Linked DNA regions of Homo sapiens: region 1 is linked to region 2. Evidence: fine-mapped expression QTL. A gene starts in region 2. The other region holds a variant in brackets. All regions are shown on one strand. Distances are between the middles of the regions. Region 1 overlaps ADAMTSL3 (ADAMTS like 3). Region 2 holds the start of ADAMTSL3 (ADAMTS like 3).

Evidence for each region. PIP is the estimated chance that this variant, and not a neighbour inherited with it, causes the effect.
Region 1: its variant is fine-mapped to the expression of ADAMTSL3 in aorta (GTEx, PIP above 0.99). The same link has a PIP of 0.9 or more in cerebellum and tibial artery.

Annotation. Positions count from the first base shown.
Region 1 is chr15:83,701,332-83,711,287 of GRCh38, reverse strand. It overlaps ADAMTSL3 (ADAMTS like 3), which reads right to left. Exons shown (of 30, transcript NM_207517.3): 3 at 6,780-6,899. Among named protein-coding and RNA genes, the nearest start is that of ADAMTSL3, 52 kb to the right of the region's middle. RefSeq lists enhancers at 1,057-1,226, 2,914-3,083. The variant C/T (reference allele first, on the strand shown) is at 4,893.
Region 2 is chr15:83,648,701-83,658,656 of GRCh38, reverse strand. ADAMTSL3 (ADAMTS like 3) reads right to left here and starts at 4,534. Exons shown (of 30, transcript NM_207517.3): 1 at 4,381-4,534; 2 at 2,827-2,928. The coding sequence starts at 2,895. RefSeq lists an enhancer at 5,896-6,065.

The DNA of each region.
Region 1 (9,956 bases), 53 kb before region 2:
ACGTCAAGTGATATTTCTGAGGGCTGCCAATAGTTTAACCACATTGAAACTCCTGGCCAAGATATTCATGAAAAGTTCGGAAGAAGTTACTTTGAGAGAGATGTACTCACAGCAAATAGATTTCTCCTCTTTAGAAAGAATGCATAAATCAATAGTTAAACGAGGAAAAGGAAAATTATGTTTATCATAATAGTATAAGAAAAAAGGCATTTAAAAGAAGTTTAGAAATAAGACTACACAGACTTCATTATTAATATATTATTGTTATTATTAGTATTAAAAATTCATTCAAACATTTCTCTCATACTTTTCCTGCCCACAGATTAGATGTAAAAATGTCTTAACTGAGCTTAAGGGCAAAGAACGGGCACTTGGCTTTGCTACTGCCTGGCTGTGTGATCTTGGACAAGACACTGTTCCTCTCCGGGGCTCAGATTCCTCACCTGAAAAGCCAGAATCCTATACTTTCTTTCAACTCTGACATGCTATTAATACAATTCCAGATGCTACCAAGGCTGCACATCCAGCCCTCTGCCTCCTTTGGGATGGAAACAGTAAAGAAAATACAATTTAGAGAGGCATATTGAAACAAGGAATCATACAAATAGGCAGCCAATGACATCCCAGGAAGGAAAGAGAAGAGTCAACTATGACTTCACCTATGATGTCATTAAGGCCTTAGGACTTTACAAACATGGAATTGTACCAACACAGACTTTTACAAATATAGGCTGATTCATACCAGAATATAGGTGTGACTTGAAGAAAGTAACTGAAATTCTTAAAAAGGATGCCTGTTGAAGGTGGTGGGGGGAGGGAGGTTGGAGGACATAGAAGAAGTTAGATTTTAAAGGTTAAAAATGAGTAGCAGAATGAGTAGCAGAAAGCAGCAAGAGACAGTAAGAATTTGAAAACCAAGTGGTCACTGAAAGCAATGGTAGATGAGAGTACAGGCAAAAGCATTTTTAAGTCTGGAAAAAAATCTCAAATCCTCTTAAATGTGGTCAGGAAGAGACACAGCAAACGCTAAATTAGTCAAGGGCAGAGGAGCAGGAAGTTTACCAGGGAGAAGGGATGGCCTGGTATGAATAGGTATAAAAGGACCTCTCCAACATGAGATCAAGGTAGTTCTCTAAATGGCTTCGAGCTTGCATTAGTGGGATTATCCTTGGTTAATTTTAGGAAAATCAAAACCCACTACTTGTCCTACATGCTTGGAATCCAAGGTATTAACCTTTTTTCCTGCCTTTTGGTGCCTAGTAGACTAAAAGTGGCAAGGTCAGCATTATTTTAATACCCTATATTAATATTAACAGGTACACACATAAAGAATTCATAAAACATAGGAAAGTGTGCATGAGGCCCAATTTCTAAGTCACCTACTGCTCGTGCTTAATGTCCTTTATCCTACGATGGCTGCCAGTGAGGAGGAAGCACATTACAGCAAATCCACCAAGTCTGGGAGGACACACCTTCCACCTTCCCCCATGCCTAACAAATGCTAAAAATAAAGAGAAATAAAAGAATATTTATGCAAAAAACAACTTTTCCTAACTCCTTAAAAAATAAATGACCTCTAACTGAGAAACACTGTGCTTGTCACAGGCTTTCAGTGACCATAATAAAGCTCCAAGTTTAAATCTTCAGTGAGTTGAAGCAAGGTAAGGATGGAAAACAACCACACCATCCCCCTTTCCCAGAAGGTGATCTAGGCAGAGAAAGACAGAGCAGATCTCCAAAAACTGACTTACTCAGCGATGAAAAGAACCATGTGCAGTGACCAATATCCAGCTGTTTGCCTATGAACAGGTCCTCTATGGGACAAAACTCCAAAACCACTATGAGGAATGACCAAAGAATCTACCCCAGAGACAGGCTGGCTAGTAACTGAAACCACAGCCTTCTTAGCCAGTCGTCCCAAACTAATACATTCTAGCTACTTCATGTACCTGATGCAACCAAGTGCTAGAACACCTTTATTCTAAGAATGTGCCCATCCAATAGAAAGTCAGTGCCATTTTAATTTCAGTTAATGTTTCACTCAAGCTTCAAAAAAAAATTGTGGCTTCTATTAAAAACTGGAAAGGAATAAATATGCTTATGAATGTTCTCCACATAGCTAATTCCAAATTCCTGAAGGAGATGAGAATGAGCTGATAAGGCATCCATTAATCTTAATCTTAATCTCTGGGGTCTATTAAGATCCCCAAAGCTCTACTAACTGTAAACAGTGGAATCAGGATTTTTAGGATAGGAGATAATTTTCTAGGTGGTTCTTCTGAGAGAAGCTCCTGGATATATCTCAGAGCAGGAGAGCCTTGGGTTTGGAGTGTAATGGTCTTAGTTTTTCAAATAACCACGGGTGTCCTTGAGTAAGTCATTTGCACATTTGGCGTCTCTGTTTTCTTGACTTGTAGAATGAGGCACTTGGGCCAAAGTCTCCACCAGCTGTAAAACTGTATAATTCTCTAAGTAATAGTTTACCGAATTGCTGGCAAGACTGCCTCAATAATCAGAATGATCCAATTAACACTCTGCAACGTGGAATATTCTATTTGTAGTTTCAGACTATTTTAGAGTGGAAAGAGTTCAGATCATGAAATCCAGTCACTTTGTTTTTTAAAAGAAATAAAGAATCCAAAGTCCAAAACGTTAAATAGTTCTGTTAGATTATAAGCTGATTAGTGGTAGAAGCAAGACCAGGCTGCCTGACTAGTCCTGTTTGCACTAAACCACATTGTTACTCAGTTGGCTTCAGACCACTTTCTTCACTAGAAGCTGCCGCGGCCCTCCGTATGATCCATAATGTGGCTTTTACGCCTCCCATTAAATGCAGCCTACATCACAGCTATGTGTTACTGGCCTCAGGGTTATTAGTTTTCCAGGCATCTAACCCAGGAGACATTTGAAGAATGACCTGAAGGTCTTCATGAAATGCGCCCAGGATAAAACACTTTAAAAAGTCCTGTGAGGTTCATCCAAGACAGCAAATATCTACACACCATCCATTTGCATCCCATTTTATCAAATGAGTACTCTATAGGTAGGAAGATCCTAGTGAACCCACATCTGACCCAACAGCATTAGAAACTAGGCTGCAGCCTCAATTGCATAAGTACTTTGTCACTCTGGCTTCAAGCCACTGTGACAGCAGGACAGCACCCCTGGCATATATATATGGAGATTCCACAGGTAGGTACCCATGCCACCTGACACAGGTTCTGCCCTGGCAGCCACTCACACAGACCCTGTACCTACTTCTGGCTGTGGAATGCCGGTGGCTGCTGGCATATAACAAAGGCTACACTGGAAAACTGTCCCCACCATTTCCCCAGGTATGAAATCTTTGGAGAGACTGCTCTGAAAACCTTTTAGGGACAACCTGGGAATTTCTGTGCAAGAGTAATGCTGCATGCCACCCAGTATGCTGCAATTTGTTCCAACATGAGACAATTTGTTCCAAAGAGTACAACTGGCTGCTAGACATTAAACCCTATATTATGTTGGATCCAGCAACTGGGTTGAATCTCTCAGACATAATGATGTGTGAAAGAAGCCAGACACAAACGAGTATGTGGTGTATGATTCCATTTATATAAAATCAAAAATAAAATTAAAAGCAGGCAAAATGAATCTGTAATACTGATAAAAGTCTGAATGGTGGTTACTTCTTGAATGTGGGATATTGATCGGAAAGAGGTTCAAGGAGCCTCCTAGGGTGCTAGAAATGTTCATTTTCTTGATCTAGGTAGCAACTACACAGGTGTAAAAATACTTAAAAATTCATCAAGCTCTATACTTCAGATATGTATGCGTTTTACTTACATATGTTATAGCTCAATAAAAAATTAATTGAAAATATTGCATGAGATCTCCTAAAGTAAGAATTAACTTCTTCCTTTCTTTTAGCATAAGCATATCTGAGATTCTTTGAATTGAGTGTTTGCAAACAACATTCTTAGTAATAACAATAGCTAAATTAAATGCTTATATGTACCAGGCCCTATGCAGGGAGACATGAATTAACGCCTACATAAGGTAGATACCATCCAAATCTCCATTTCATAGATGAGAAAATTAAGGGACAGGGAAGTAAAGTAACTTGTCCAAAGTAAAACAGCAAATCAAATGGCAGAACTGACAAATCAAATTCAAACCCAAAGCAGTCTGACTCCAGAGACTTTGTTCTTAATTGATCTTAATGTTTTGTCATATGCTGAAGGATCAGGGGATTTTTTAAAAGTTTGATAGTATTTGATTGGTTTTATCCTTTCCCCAGTGCCTGAGAAGCATGTTCAGCATTAAGAAAAAAGAGGATTGGCCAGGCGCAGTGGCTCACACCTGTAATCCCAACGCTTTGGGAGGCCGAGGAGAGCAGATCGCTTGAGCCCAGGAGTTTGAGGCCAACCTGGTCAACATAGCAAAACCTCATTTCTACAAAATACAGACAAAAAAAATTATCCAGGGGTGGTGGTACATGCCTAATGCCTATAATCCCAGCTACCTGGGGTGGGGGGCGGGGGCTGAGGCAGGAGGATCACCTAAGTGTGGGTGGGGAGGTTGAGGCTGCAGTGAGCTGTGATCATGCCACTGCACTTCAGCCTGGGTGACAGAACAAGACCCAATCTCAAAAAAAAAGAAAAGAAAAAAGAGGAAAGAGAATCAGGATTTGGTTGGTGGGTTAACAGTCTCTAGCTGATTAAATTCCTGAGGTTCATTCAATAGATAAACCTAGTTTAGTCCAAGCGCCTATTTTCTGTGCCTTTAGTAGAGGAAAGTGGGTGCTATTATTGGCTTGTTATAGTCTCAAATTATTCCTTTCTCCTAAAAGAAATACACAGTGGGGGCAACACAGAGTGTTTTCATATGCTAGTCACTGAGGCTTTCTGGAA[C/T]ACTATGTCCTAGGATGAAATTTCCACAGCATGCCACACACTTTTCAGATCTGCTTTAGACCTTTTGAAAAGACTGAAGGGGCTTGTTTTCCCCTTTTCCCAGCTTTTATATTGTTATTATGTTAAATATAAAGTATCTGTGGAACCTGGAGAAGACATTAACCACTCTTTAATTATAAAATGCATAGCTTGGTATTTTCCAGACACCCGCTTTTATCCTTTACGGCCCTCTCAATTAGTTCCTCTGAAGTTCTCATATGAAAACCTGTTGGATTATTGATTTCTGGATTAAAAGGAGCTATAAATTATAGACCCTCTCAAAATCCATCAAGGGAAGGGGGAAGGCAGAAAGTGACTTAATGATGTTTTAGCCCCTATTAGCAACCAGGCCCAAATGTTTGGGCTCTACAATGCAAATATAGAATTATTCCCCAGCCCACCCCTGCTCCCCACAATGACTAGTAATGCACTCACTCACTTTTAAAGTAACTTGAAAATATGATTGAATGTTGACATTTTGAGTAAGAAATTGGTCTCATCCCACTCTTGCCCCAATGACCAGTGTGGCTCCCTGCCCACAGCGGTCTGGAGGGTCACAGCCCTGACCTTCACCCCAGTCCCAGCTCTGGAATGAAGCCCACCAAGGGTAGGTCACTGAGCAGCAGCCTCAAGGATGGAGAGTGTGCAGTGTCTTCCCCTGAGCTGGGAGATAGAGGACTGAGCAACAGACTCCTCTACCTGCCCTCTATGCTCTAATCTCCGTCCTGCATCAGCCACTGATGCTCTGCAAGACTTTCATCCTTCTCCCAGCCCACCTCCAGCACTCTGCCTAGCTCCAGCCAGCCCTCAGAACAGGGTCCTACTCCCTGTGGTCACATCTTGGATCTACCCATGTTGGCAGACTGAATTTCTCAGAGCTGTTCCTTTTGAGTACTGTCTTTTGCACTCTGACTAGGCTTTACCTAAATCAAACCAGGATGCACTGGCCTTTGGCTATACAGCTGAGGAGAGCACAGCTGGCCTCAGTCACTGGGCCATCTCCCTCCACTCTATCACGTACCATGGGAAGGTGATCTTGCCCCAGCTCCTCACCTTCACTTGGGCCCTACAGGTGCTGAGGTCTGCCAGATCCACCCAGGCCCTACATCATCTTAAAGTCCACCCTGGTTTGCTCAACTGCCCCATAAATTCAGGCTTTACCAGCTTTGCATTAGGCAAAGTTGAAACTCTCTGTTTCACCAAGTTGTGAGTGATTTCAAAGATGGATAATCTTAAATGCTATTATGGCATCAAGGTGAATTGAGGATGGAAGGGAATCACAACTTCCAGTGCTCAGCTTACACATGTCAGCCAAGCAAGGCCTTCTTCTCTAGTTAGCCTTCCTAAAATGATTTCAACACACACACACACACACACACACACACACACACTCACAGACATATGCACACACAGGCATTCACACTGTGTTCCTTTCTGAAAAGTAATCTTGGGGAAAAAAGCATGCAACATTGGTGCTGGTAAAAGAAATGAAGTAAAAGCTGAGGGCAAAGAAGTAACACATAAGCAGAAAACAGAATTTTGGATAATTTCAGAATTGAATCATCAATGTGGTGATAGCTGAGATGAACAAATCCATCATATATTTCTGATGAAAATAAGAAAAAGTGACTTTTATGCAAATGCAGAGAAAGAACTGCACATTATATAGGAAATTACATGCAAACATGGGCAATCCACATATTCTGGGATCCTTCAAGGGTGTCAAGGGTCTGTTGTACTTGTATTGCAAAGAGGAAAATATAATTACTTTGAAGGTCTTTTAGAGACAGTTTCCTGACCACTGGCAAACAGCAAAGCCAAAGGTAGATCCTTGTCCAATGTTCTTACCTGGTCATCATAGCGATAAGTGAGGAACTGCTCCCCTGTTGTGTCTTCCAGAAAACTTCCCTGAGGAGAAAGTGCAAACTCGGGAAGGAAATAGGCTCCAGGAGATTTCTCAGCTGTGGTCTGAAAAACAAGATCATTTGGTCACAAATAAGGCTCCAGTAAGGACCCCCTGACAGGTAAAGTCCAAGAAGGCCATTCCAGGAGAATCCACCATTAATAGCTGTACCAAGAAACAAAAAGGGAAGTGACCTCTCTTGGCAAAGACCAGGGTGAGGCACACCAGGTGTGTCAGGGCACTGTTAGGCCAGGATATCACAGTGGCCCGAATCAAACTGGCAGCCATGGCATTTATTCTCTGACACCTGCCTCTCTCCCCCTCCCCGCTACCTCTGCTCCCCATCTTCCAGCAATTCAGTCACAGAGTAGTTAACTTTGTCTTGTTGTTGCAAATCTATTGTTTTTAGGATTTTCTTTTCTTCTTCCTTTTGTGTTTTTTTTTTTTTTTGGCAAAGGAGTGAGAAACAAAAATTTTCTCCCATACTACAACAAAAATGCACTTCATTGTAGAAACTTTAGAACATATAAATGAGCACAGAAGAAAATAAAATCACCCATAATCTTTTCAACCTGTAATAACCACTGTTAATTGTTTTGGTGTATTTCCTTTGAGACTTTTTCTTCATAATGCTTTGTTTAAAAATCCAAGCTTAAATAAACATGCATATTGTAGACTGTGTTTAGTTCATGGAAAGCTCATACCCCAGTCCGTTTTCATGCTGCTGATAACTACATACCCGAGACTGGGAAGAAAAAGAGGTTTAATTGGACTTAGAGTTCCACGTGGCTGGGGAGGCCTCAGTATCATGGCAGGAGGTGAAAGGCACTTCCGACATGACGGCCACAAGAGAAAGTGAGAGGGATGCAAAAGCGGAAACCCCTGATAAAACCATCAGATCTCGTGAGACTTATTCACTATCACGAGAACAGTATGGGGGAAACTGTCCCTATGATTCAAATTATCTCCCACCGGGTCCCTCCCACAACACATGGGAATTATAGGAGTACAATTCAAGATGAGATTTGAGTGGGGACACAGAGCCAAACCATATCACTCCACCCCTGGCCCCTCCAAATCTCATGTCCTCACATTTCAAAACCAATCATGCCTTCCCAACAGTCCCCCAAAGTCTTAACTAATTTCAGCATTAACCAAAAAGTCCACAGTCCAAAGTCTCATTTGAGACAAGGCAAGTCACTTCTGCCTATAAGCCTGTAAATTCAAAAGCAAGCTAGTTACTTCCTAGATACAATGAGGGTATAGGTATTGGATAAACACAGCCATTCCAAATGGGAGAAATTGGCCAAAACAAAGGAGTTACAGGGCACATGCAAGTCCAAAATCTAGTGGGGCGGTCAAATTTTAAAGCTCCAAAATGATCTCCTTTCACTCCAGGTCTCATGTCCAGGTCACGCTGAGGCAAGAGGTGGGTTCTCATGGTCTTGGGCAACTCCACCCTTGTGGCTTTTCAGGGTATGGCCTCTCTCCCAGCTGTTTTCACAGGCAGGCGTTGAATGTCTGTGGCTCTTCGAGGAACATGGTCCAAGCTGTCAGTGGATCTACCATTCTGGGGTCTGGAGGACAGTAGCCCTCTTCTCACAGCTCCACTAGGCAGTGCCCCAGTAGGAACTCTGTATGGGGGCTCCGACCCCACATTTCCCTTCCGTACTGCTATTGCACAGGTTCTTCATGAGGGCCCCGCCCCTGCAGCAAACTTTTGCCTGGGCATCCAGGTGTTTCCATACAACCTCTGAAATCTGGGCAGAGGTTCCCAAACCTCAATTCTTGACTTCTGTTGCAGGCTCAACATCACAAGGAAGATGCCAAGACTTGGGGCTTCCACCCTCTGAAGCCACAGCCCGAGCTCTACATTGGCCCCTTTCAGCCATAGCTGGAGCAGCTGGGACACAGGGCACCAGGTCCCTAGGATGCACACAGCCAAGGGACCCAGGGCCCAGCCCGCAAAACCACTTTTTCCTCTTGGGCCTCCAGGCCTGTAATGGGAGGGGCTGCCATGAAGGTCTCTGACATGCCCTGGAGACATTTTCCCCATAGTTCTGGGAATTAGCATTAGGCTCCTTACTACTTATGGAAATTTCTGCAGCCAGCTTGAATTTTTCCCCAGAAAATGGGTTTTTCTTTTCTATTGCATAGTCAGGCTGCAAATTTTCTGAACTTTTATGTTCTGTTTCCCTTTTTAAACTGAATGCCTTTAACAGTATCCAAGTCATCTCTTGAATGCTTTGCTGCTTAGAAATTTCTTCCACCGGGTACCCTAAATCTTCTCTCTCAAGTTCAAAGTTCCACAAATCTCTAGGGCAGGGGCAAAATGCCACCAGTCTCTTTGCCAAAACATAACAAGAGTCACCTTTGCTCCAGTTCCCAAGAAGTTCCTCATCTCTATCTGAGACCACCTCAGCCTGGACCTTTTCATTCATATCATTATCAGCATTTTGGTAAAGGCAATCAACAAGTCTCTCCGGAGTTCCAAACTTTCCCACATTTTCCTGTCTTCTTCTGAGCCCTCCAAACTGTTCCAACCTCTGCTTGTTACCCAGTTCCAAAGTTGCTTCTACATTTTCAGGTATCTTTTCAGCAGCACCCGATTCCACTGGTGCCAATTTACTGAATTAGTCCAATTTCATGCTGCTGGTAATGACATACTCGAGACTGGGAAGAAAAAGAGGTTTAATTGGACTTACAGTTCGACATGGCTGGGGAGGCCTCAGAATCATGGCAGGAGGCAAAAGGCACTTCTTACATGATGGTGGCAAGAGAAAATGAAGGGATGCAAAGTGGAAACCATTGATAAAGCCATCAGATCTTGTGAGACTTATTCACTGCCATGAGAACAGTATGGGGGATACCTCCCCCATGATTCAAATTATCTCCCACCGGGTCTCTCCCACAGCATGTGGGAATTATGAGAGCACAATTGAAGATGAGATTTGGGTGGGGACACAGAATCAAACCATATTACCTGGCATCTGAATCACTGGACATAAATCACAATGGTTGGAGTCTGAGGGGGTCAGAAAGGACACCCTCTTTAGGGGAATATGGCTGGGATATGATGACCCAATGGACTTGCTACCATCACACTATCACCCACCTCCTGG
Region 2 (9,956 bases):
ATCAGATCCCTAAGGAGAAGCCTGGAGCAACAGGAAGCTTCCAGGGCCTGTGAGACAGGAAGAGGGGAGGCCGCTCCAGCTGCCTGGATGAGGGGAACAGTGAGCTCCTCGAGGAATGGTCAAGAACGAGTTACAAAAACAAGGAACTACCAGCCTCTTACCTTGTTCTACAATCTCTCACAATTATTTGTGGGCAGTGAATATAAGAGTTTACATTTTAGCTGATTCAATAAAGAAAATATATTTGTGGACGGGCGCAGTGGCTCACATCTGTAATCCCAGCACTTTAGGAGGCCGAGGTGGGCAGATCACTTGAGGTCAGGAGTTCGAGACCAGCCTGGCCAACATGGCAAAACCTCATCTCTACCGATAATACAAAAATTAGCTGGATGTGGTAGTGTGCGCCTGTAGTCCCAGCTACTCAGAGGCTGAGACACGAGAATTGCTTGAACCCAGCAAGCAGAGGTTGCAGTGAGCTGAGATCATGCCACTGCATTCTAGCCTGAGCAACAGTGTGAAACCATGTCTCAAAAGAAAAGAAAAGAAAGGAAACTCTATTTGTTATTAATTAGTTGGCACATCCCTTGCTCCTCACAGCTCAGCCTCACACATCTAGCAGTTTTCTAACAACCACCTTGGTGGCAGCACATACGAAGCAAGGGTAGACGCCAGGGAACACCTTAAGCCCCACCCAAACACCAAAATCACAAGATACTTCAGAAAGGGCGGCCTTGAGTCAAACCCAGGCTGACCCTACGGAAAAAACAGAGCATCCAACCCACGGACAGGGACACAGGGCTGACCTACCACCCTTCATTAGAACCTTTTCTCAGGGCCTCTGGTGAGACAGACCTAGCCATGCCCACCCACACTCCCTGAAGATCAGGCCCTCCACAGCTGATACCTCTTGAGTGCCCCCTACAGGCTCTACACCAGAAAATACAGGCACTGCGCTTGCTTCAAGCTTCTAATGCTGACAAGCAGCAGCAACAGCAGAATGCTGACATTTATTGTACACTTACTATGTGCCAGACATTGTTTGGTTTGGTTTTTCACTTTTTTCCACTTCACAATGGATTAACTCTTCCAAACAATTCTGAGGTCTATACTAATATTATCTCCTCTGTATAGATGTGAAAACTGAGATGCGATGCAGAGACGTTTGCGTGACACAGTAATGAAGTGGTAGAGCTGGGATCCGAACAGTGAGTGGCGTGAATGATGAAGACTGCTGGTCTGAAATCTCCTTTTATGACCTTCTATGCACACTGCCTGGATACATGGAAACAGCACTGCCACAGGCACACAGATATGGAAAAATCCAAAAGAGGTCAGTGAGTGATTCAAGCTGGGCAAACACTGCCCTTGGCCAAAGGTCAACAGACTGCCTCAAAGCATATTTAAATTTTATAAGGTGAAAGAAGGCAAAATGAACACTGTGCCTTGAAGCCTCAGCCCCATTTGACCAGGAACAAATCTCTGAAGCTCTCAAAGCCTGTTTCAGATCCGCTGATGAGACAGAAACGTAAGTCTCCACGCTTTTACCTCAACAGTCATCTCGCTGGCCAGAGAACCCTAACATCATCCTGAAAAGACTTAACTTTTGTTCTAACAAAAGAGCTCTATTAATATGATTATGGGATAGTATCGATAAAATGGGATAGTGGGGAGAAGATGTACCTTGCTGACCAGTTCTTTGTGCATCACAGAATTCACAGGGCATTGGAGCCAAAAGAGGCTTTAGAGGCACTAAGTCCAAGAAAGTGAAACAAGAGGCAGAGGAGTCTGATTAATTTATCCCAGGGTATATATCTTCATTCATGGATGCATGTTTATTTAACAGACATTTAAGCCCTTAAGTGACAAGTCCCTTCCGAGACCCTGAGGGTACACAGGCCACCAAGCCATGTATTTGAGAAGCTATGTCTGCAGGGAGGGATTGCCTTGTTCTAATTCATAAGACACTGTATGGAGCTAGCAGCAGCCCTTGGGACACAATACTAAGATGTGCCCTGCCTTTAGATCTGGGGCTGCAAACTGCTTGGCTGAATCCAGGCTGCAAACACATTTATCTGCCTTTCAATACTTTAAAAACTGGGAAATTTTGTAAGAAGTCTAGATGATCCAGCTATCTTGAAAAATAAGATCTGGCAATCCTGGGCTTATGTCTCCACTTAGCAACGATCAGATGGAATTGAGTAGAGACTGCTCTTAATAGATGGAGCACGCGTTCTGCACTTTGCCACTGTCTCCGTTACTCTCTATTGTCTCTTAGGCAATGCTAGCCTCATTCCTTTGTTTGAGTCTGTCCTTTAGGCAAATAAAGATGCAATTCATGAGCCGGGTCCTCTCAAGTTGGTTGGAAAAGACAGCAGAAGTCTAAAGAGAGGACTGTGGGATAAAACAGTGGGATATGTGATGATAGATGTAAACTCAGAATATTTATTTAGCAGCTTAGCTAGGGCCAGAACCTGGCTCTGCCCATTGTTTCCTGGTCTCCAGCAACCCAGCCTCTGCTGGGCACATGCAGACAGCCATTCTAGTCTGAAATGACAGGGTCCATCACAGCCCCAGGTCATCACCGGTGTATGGTATCCACAGTGCTATTAAAGCCCTACTCAGGATTCAGAGAGGACCCAAGGGATCTGGATAATCCTTACAGCTAAGCCAACCAGAAATACCATTGGCTAGAGATAGGAAAGAAAGTCTGGTTCTCTGGTGTAGGATTAACACTAATCATGCCACATCTTAGGTGGTATACAATAATGCCTCTGAGTAAACAGAGGGATGTCCACCATTTCCCTTCCCCTCCCTATATGACCTTACCTGCGGGAGGGGAGAGTGCATGAAGACCATCCCTATCAGCACCCACCAGGGGCTCGTCCAGGAAGCCATGGGGTCTAGTCTCCTCCGGGTCTCAGTTGTAGCCTACAAACGAGGAAAGAGTTCATTACCAACCAGCTCTGGCCCCCATGGCAGTAAACCGTGACTTAAGCGACCCATTAGATGGAGGGACCCTGAAGCCCATATACTATTTTGGAAAGGTTTGTGTTGGCCCAGGTTGCCGCTGCCTACTGCAGGGTGCAGGCTAACTGGGCTCCCTTTAGAAGGTCCACAACAAAGTCAGGCGAGGGCTGGACCTGTCTCCAGTGGGCATCTCATACCTCCAGCTCTTCAGAAGCTGAGATATCCCTGCCCAAGCCTATCTGTCAGCAGCAGGGTGTCGCTATTGGCATTTGACTCAGGAAGCCAGCACAGAGCCAAGGTTTAGGCTAGCTTCTGCTGCTCGCGGCAAAAATGAGTCTAAGACAACAAAGCCGCCCAGAGAGGGAAAGGACCTGCCTAAGGTCACACAGCAAGATAGTGACATTTTAGGGCTGAAACGCAGATCTTCTGATAGTTCAAGGCTTTCCTCGCTAGATGACACCGTGCGCCCTCGAGGTCCGGGACCCACACCCAGAGAGACGCCTGAGAGCTAAGTTCAGGGAGGTTTGGAGGACACAGCCCCTGAGCCAGCCTAACACAATCTCCTAAAAGTAGGTGAGGGCCAGCCAGCAGAGGTCAGCTGAAACCAGGAGGGAAGCGGGGACTTTTTCCCTTACTTTTCCTGTCAATTTACAGGGAAATCAGTATGAGTCGAGACTGGAAAAGCCGAGGTCACACTCGACTCCCGCTTCGCCTCGCGGGCGCCTTGGCGGAGCTGGTGTCCGGGGGCGGGTCGGTGGCTTCTCTCCATCTGGAGAAGGCATTAAGGGCCTGGTCTAATGTGATCCGCAAATGTGCTGCTGTTTCCGACCTGAGGCGGCGACTCCTGGCTGAAGGGAGGCGGCCAGTGCGGGGCCCTGGGACTCTGCGCCACCCTCGCCTGCTCGCACCAGCCTTCCGAGTGCACACTCCTCCGACTACCCGCTGCCTCGAAGTCGCTCCTCCAGTGCCTCCGCCGCGTCCCGGTCACCCCCACGCCCACTTTCCACGATCGCGCGTCGCCTCAACCCCCGGCGTTCTGGGCGCTCGCTACCCAGTGGTCAACCGGCCGGACCTTCGGACCCGCGAGGTTTCTGCTTAGTAACTCCCAATCCTGAAAAACTCCAACCCTGTGGAGTTCCCCCATAATCAAGAACGCCCCTCAGCCCGCGAACTGCCGCCGAAAGACTCTCCCTGAACCTTCCGGGACGGCACGAAGCGCGCCCGACCCGAGGTGCCCAGCAGTGAGGAGCACCCCAGTCCTGAGGCCCCCTGGGGCCCGCGTGGCACGCCCCGACTCTGCTTGGAGACCCCCAACTTGCTTAGAGAGGCCACTGCTCCAAGTCTTACTCCCTCTGGGGAGCGCCTTCCCCCGACCCCTGAGGGGCCGCCCTGCGCCGAGCTCGGTGCACCCACCTTGCGCCGCAGAAGTATCTGGGACGTGCAGCCCCGGGGCCGCGCGGGCTCGGCGCGCGCTGGGGAGAAGTTGGCAGAAGCCGCCCGTCAACACCTCGTGCGGAATCCGGCACCAGGACCTTCCCCGACGCCGGCCTCCAGCCCGCGGCGCCGCAGTCGCCGCCGCCGCCGCGAAGTTAAATGGGGCTGGGACGGGGGCTGCCCCGCCTCTCCCGCCCCCTCCGGGCGCGCAGAGCGCTGCGCTGGCCCCGGCCCAGAGGCGGAGGGCGCGCGCCGCCACCTGCACCGCCCGGCAAGTGCACGGCGCGCCCAGGCGCCCGTCAGCCTGCGCGCCGGCACCGCGCCCTCGGCTTGAGCTGGAGGCGCCGGGGGCGCGAAGAGACGCCGTGTGGGGCCAGGCCCGGGCCGCTCGGAGCGCGCGGGGCCGCGGCGACGGCGGGACTCGGCTGGAACGCTCCTCCGCCCGCTTCCTGGAAGCCACTCCTCGCCCTGGGCCGGCCGCCAGGCGTTGTGCCAAGAGCCGGGATTGCCGACGCCGCCACCGCCGCCGCCGGCAGGCGCACTGGGGAAAGGCGGCCGCTGCGCCGCAAGCCAGCCTGGCCGCCCCGCCTCAGCCGGAGCCGGAGCAGGGATGCCGTCGCTCCCCCCGAGCCCACCCCCGGCCCCACCTCCCATAGCCTCCACCCACCCCGCCCAGACCCGGGCGCCAGCTCTGCAAAGTCAGGCCCAGCAGCCACACAGAGGTTTGCCCGGAACCGCTGGCTCGTGCCTAAGAGCCATAGGCACTCCTGGCCAGGCAGGACCATAGTGGAGACCAATGGCCCTCTCCTGGCCTGCGCCTCCTCCGCGCAGCATAGACGCCACACAAGGGACTGTGGAGCGCTCACTGCCCAGAGGCCTGGGACCTTTGGCAGCCAGGGACCACGAGGATCTTGCAGGAGCGCCTCTTAACTGGGTACCTGGCGCCTCCTTGTCTGAGCCGGGCTTGGGGAACTGAGAGCTCCACAGGTGCCAGAATCATGCCGTGTCCAGGCCTGGGATTTGGGGTTGGGGGGAAGAGTGTCGCGGACAAGAGACTGGGGTGAGTTGCCTGTGTACTTCTGGAGGTGAGGAGAAGTAAAAGGAAATGTTTGTCCCTGTCCTTGTCCTAGTCCCAGCAGGATAAGCCAAGGGCCAGGAGATTGATCTTAAAGGCTGCATTATGCCCCCACCTAAGTCCTACCACAGTCGCCATTTCCTTGGGTGTCTGTCGAGTACCAAGCTCTTTGTGTCTATCTGATCTTCACAGCAGCAGTAGTTCGAGCATTATCCCATTTCACCTAGGATAAATCTGAGGCTGGGAGGATAACTTGCCCACCATGAGTGGAGAAGCCAGGACTGGAACCCCTATCTGCCTCTCTCTAGAGCCTGGACTGTTCACCCCTAAAGTTGTTCTCCTGCCTTCTCTGTGGTTGCTGCGTTCCGGTTACTGCTAGAGCTTTGCCAAGAGCAATTGGCCCTGCCTGCTTTCCTCACTCATTCTTCCCTTACTTACTCTGGTGACTTCCTCTGACCAAGAAGAGGATCTTCAAGGCTGTCTCTCCACTCTATGTAAAATGATTGGACTTGTGGCAAGTGAGCAGAGGACAGGTCAGTGTGGAGACAGGAGAGGTAAGAGTAGCCAGTGAAGGGTAGGGAGGGCTGGGCTAAACTAGAACTAACTCATCTATGGACAATCGATCCTTTTTATTTACTGTAGTTGTGGTCTATAAAGTCACAGAACAACGAATTTGTGAATATGGAGCCATTGTTCCTAGGGGAAATATAGAGTTGGGTTCCTGCAAGCTCACAATATTTTTGTCAATCAATCAACACATTGCCTTATTTTATGCATGTTTCTGTTTAAAGACGCCTTACTTAACATCTATTGTTGATTCCTGAACACTGAGCTCACAGCCTACAGTGCTGTAACTCATGCCTGAATGAAGCTTATCTAACTTACGTATTTTCTCTGCAACACACATCCCAGCCTTCTTCCACTTAGGAACGCTAGACTTCACTTCAGCACTGTGCCTGGGGGGTGCTTTAAGCAGCAAAATCATCAAAAAAAAGACCAAAAAAATGTGAAAACATGGCAATGAAGAGAACTTTTGGGCCACTCATTTACAGTGTGAAAGCTGAAACAAGAAGACAGAGGGTTGACTGGTTGGACCTTAGCTTCCAACATGTGTCTCAAGAGACTCAAAACGTTCAGCACTGGTTCAATGACTTTGAAAGTGCTGCAGCTATTGATTATGAGGTGTTAAAATAAAAACTTTAGACAAATTTAACAGAGGTTAATTGAGCAAAGAACAATTTGAAAATAGGGCAGCCCCCCTCAGCCCCAAAACAAAATAGATTCAGAGCAACTCTGGGGCTTCCACATAGTCAGATAATATTTATGGATAGAAAACGGAATATGATGAACAGAAAACGGAAATGAGGTACAGAAACAGCTGGATTGGTTACAGCTCGGCATTTGCCTTATTTAAACATGGTTTAAACAGTTGACCGCCTGTGATTGGCCAAAACTCTGTGACTGCTTCAAGAGTAGGTTACAGTCTGTTTACACATCATCAGGTTACAGTTTACTATGTACAGAGAGACCTTTAGGCCGAACTTAAAATATGTAAGAAGGCAACTTTAGGCTAAACTTAATTTAACGGAGGTGACAAATAAATTTTACCCAGTAGCTGAATTCACAATAAGGAATCTGCAAATAATGAGAATTGATTTTTCGTGCTTCTCATATCAGAGTATCAGTAAAGGAATAGCCACATTAACATTCAAAACACTTAGGATGTGGCAGGCACTGTTCCAGATACTTTGCTTATACCGAGTCATCCCATCATCACAACAGCCTATGGGGTAGATATTATTTTTATTCCCATTTTGCAAATGAGGAAACTGAAGTGGAAAGGTTTAAATACCTCATGTTCTTAGCAACTAGACGATACCACTCCTCATCGTTCATATTCTAAAACTAGCCCCACCATATCATGGAGTCAAATGCAAAAAAGTCACATGAATATGCAAGATGAAATGGAGAATTCAAAGAAATATTATGCTTGTGCAGTGGTGGCTGCATTAAGCAGAGCTCCCGGTGTCTGCAACTCAAGAAGTCACTGAGAATGCCTCTGGAGTTGGGGGACTTTGCTGGGAACATTTGAGATGCACTGCTCTGTTTTAAGGTATTAATGGCTCAGCAGGACTTCCTGTCTCATCTCCCTTGGGCAATCTGACTCCTGAGCCAGCCTCCAAGGAGTGCCCCACACCAAGTACTAAGACCAGGACTGAGCCTTTCTCTCCCACAGGTTCCATCTAGCAGGAGGCCAGCCCCCTCAAAGAGCAGGTGTTCCAGTAGCGAAAAGTAGTAGAGAAAACATCACCAATACCTTTATAGAACTTTTGCCTTCCAGTTAACCCTAGCAGGTCAAGCAAACCTGTGTGAGTGGCCAAGGTACTGTAAGTTAGGACAACAAAGAGCTGCAGAGGACAGCCTCCACTGGGGGTGCTGGCTGGACTTCACAGATGTTATGCGCAGAATCATGGCCTCACCACCCCTCAGTCACCTCTTCCCTCACCCCTTCCCTCAGTCACTCACCCACACTTCCCTCCCATCCTTACTTCCTCACCTGAGGCTTGGCCCAAATGTTTAAATAAGACATTGCCAAAGGCATGGTGTGGTGGGAGATCAGGAATTGGGAAGAACAGGAATGAATAAACCCCAAAGCAGCTAATCTGGCTGATTTGGCTGTTGAGTGTAGCCACCTACCCAATCACTATCTGGGGAGGTTCAGGCCCCTCCCTGCCTACTTCCTGGACTTCCTCCCTGTGAGAACACCCACCACCTGGGGACAATGGCAATGCATTTAGACTCTGAAGGGTCGAGGAAACTGAGTTCCATTTCCTCCCTAAGATCCAACTTCTTGGCTTCCTGGCTTTCACTACCTGTCTCAGGACCTGCTTCTTCCTAGATGAATTTCAGAGATTCCTGCCCGCGCTCCCAGCTTTGCCTGCTCCCAGCTTTGCCTGTTGACCTCAACCCAACAAGCACACAGTACAACATTCACGTGAGAGATACACATTGAAGATCAGGAAAGGAACTATTGATGATGGTGGTGTTGGGGTGTGTTTAGGTTTTACCCTTAGAGACAAGGAATATCAATTCAGGCATCAGCCTTAATTTGTTCTTGAAACAGAAATGCTCTTTCTGGTTACAGAGTTGTGAAGTGGGCTTGGGAAGCACACTCAAGAACGCTGTGTTGGAGGCTTGGAGAAAAAGAGTACTTGGAGGCAAGTACTCCAATAGAAGTTACCATTGACTGCAGCAGACACCAAAGATACACTCTCAGCCAAGGCCACTAAGAGATAACACATCTGGGGCCAGGTGCGGTGGCTCATGTCTGTAATCCCAACACTTTGGGAGGCCGAGGCGGGCAGATCATTTGAAGTCAGGAGTTCGAACCCAGCCTGGCCAACATGGTGAAACCCCATCTTTGCTAAAAAATACAAAAATTAGCCAGACATGGTGGCGTGCACATGTAGTCCCAGCTACACGGGTGGCTGAAGCAGGAGAATCACTTGAACTGGGAGGCAGAGGTTGCAGTGAGCTGAGATCACACCACTGCACTGCAGCCTGGGCAACAGAACGAGACTCTATCTCAAAAAAAAAAAAAAGAACACATCTGGATGTTAGGTGAACATAGTGCCTTAGGGGCACAAAATTAGCTAGCGAGTGTTCTTCAGGAAAAACCTATGAAGGAGTGAGGGAAGCAGGATAGGTAAGGCGCAAGACTAGAGCAAGCTGTGACTGAGGTCAAGCCTAACCTTCATGTGATCCTCGGGGATCCTGGAACAGAAACCACACCATAGATTTGCCGTGACTTGAAGCACCAGGACCAACTGCTGACCCGGGTGCCAGTAAGTCACTGCCTCCACTGGAGCTGGGTGGTGGTATATGGTGGTATAACCTCCAAGGTGGCTCCCTGTGGCCAAGGACAATGCTCCAGGAATGTATCAGCTGTAAGCCTTTAGCTGCTGCACCAAATATATGCTGGGGATAGGTGTGCCTGCTGGTAAAGAAATCGGACAGGGCATCCTCTCCAACGGCATCTACCATGCCTGGTTTTCAGGACGTATCCCTAGTCCCACACAGGAAATATGCTCAGCTAGCACTGATGGTTTTCTGACCAGAGTGGGTCCTTCTTTTGAATAGAAATTTGCTTTATAAAATTTGTTCAAGTCTTTATCCAGTTGCTCATAAGCAAGAACAGCCCTTGGGAGGGAAGTGTAGTGACAGGAAGTGTTTCTGCTGAGTGAGGGGCTCTGTGTGCTTTGGCAGAGCCTCACTTTTGGGTTTTCCCCTCAGCCTGCACTTAGATCCCCAGGTCTTCATGAGTCTTAGAGGTGCCAGGTCTGCGATTTCAAGTCAGGAGCTTAGGAATTAGTACTGCTGCAGCACTGGAGGTCTGAGCCTATCAGAATCTCTGTCAGGAGGGCGAAGGTGGTGTTGGACGATCTCTTTCTAGAAAGTCCCCAGTCTTTAGGGTGGGGCA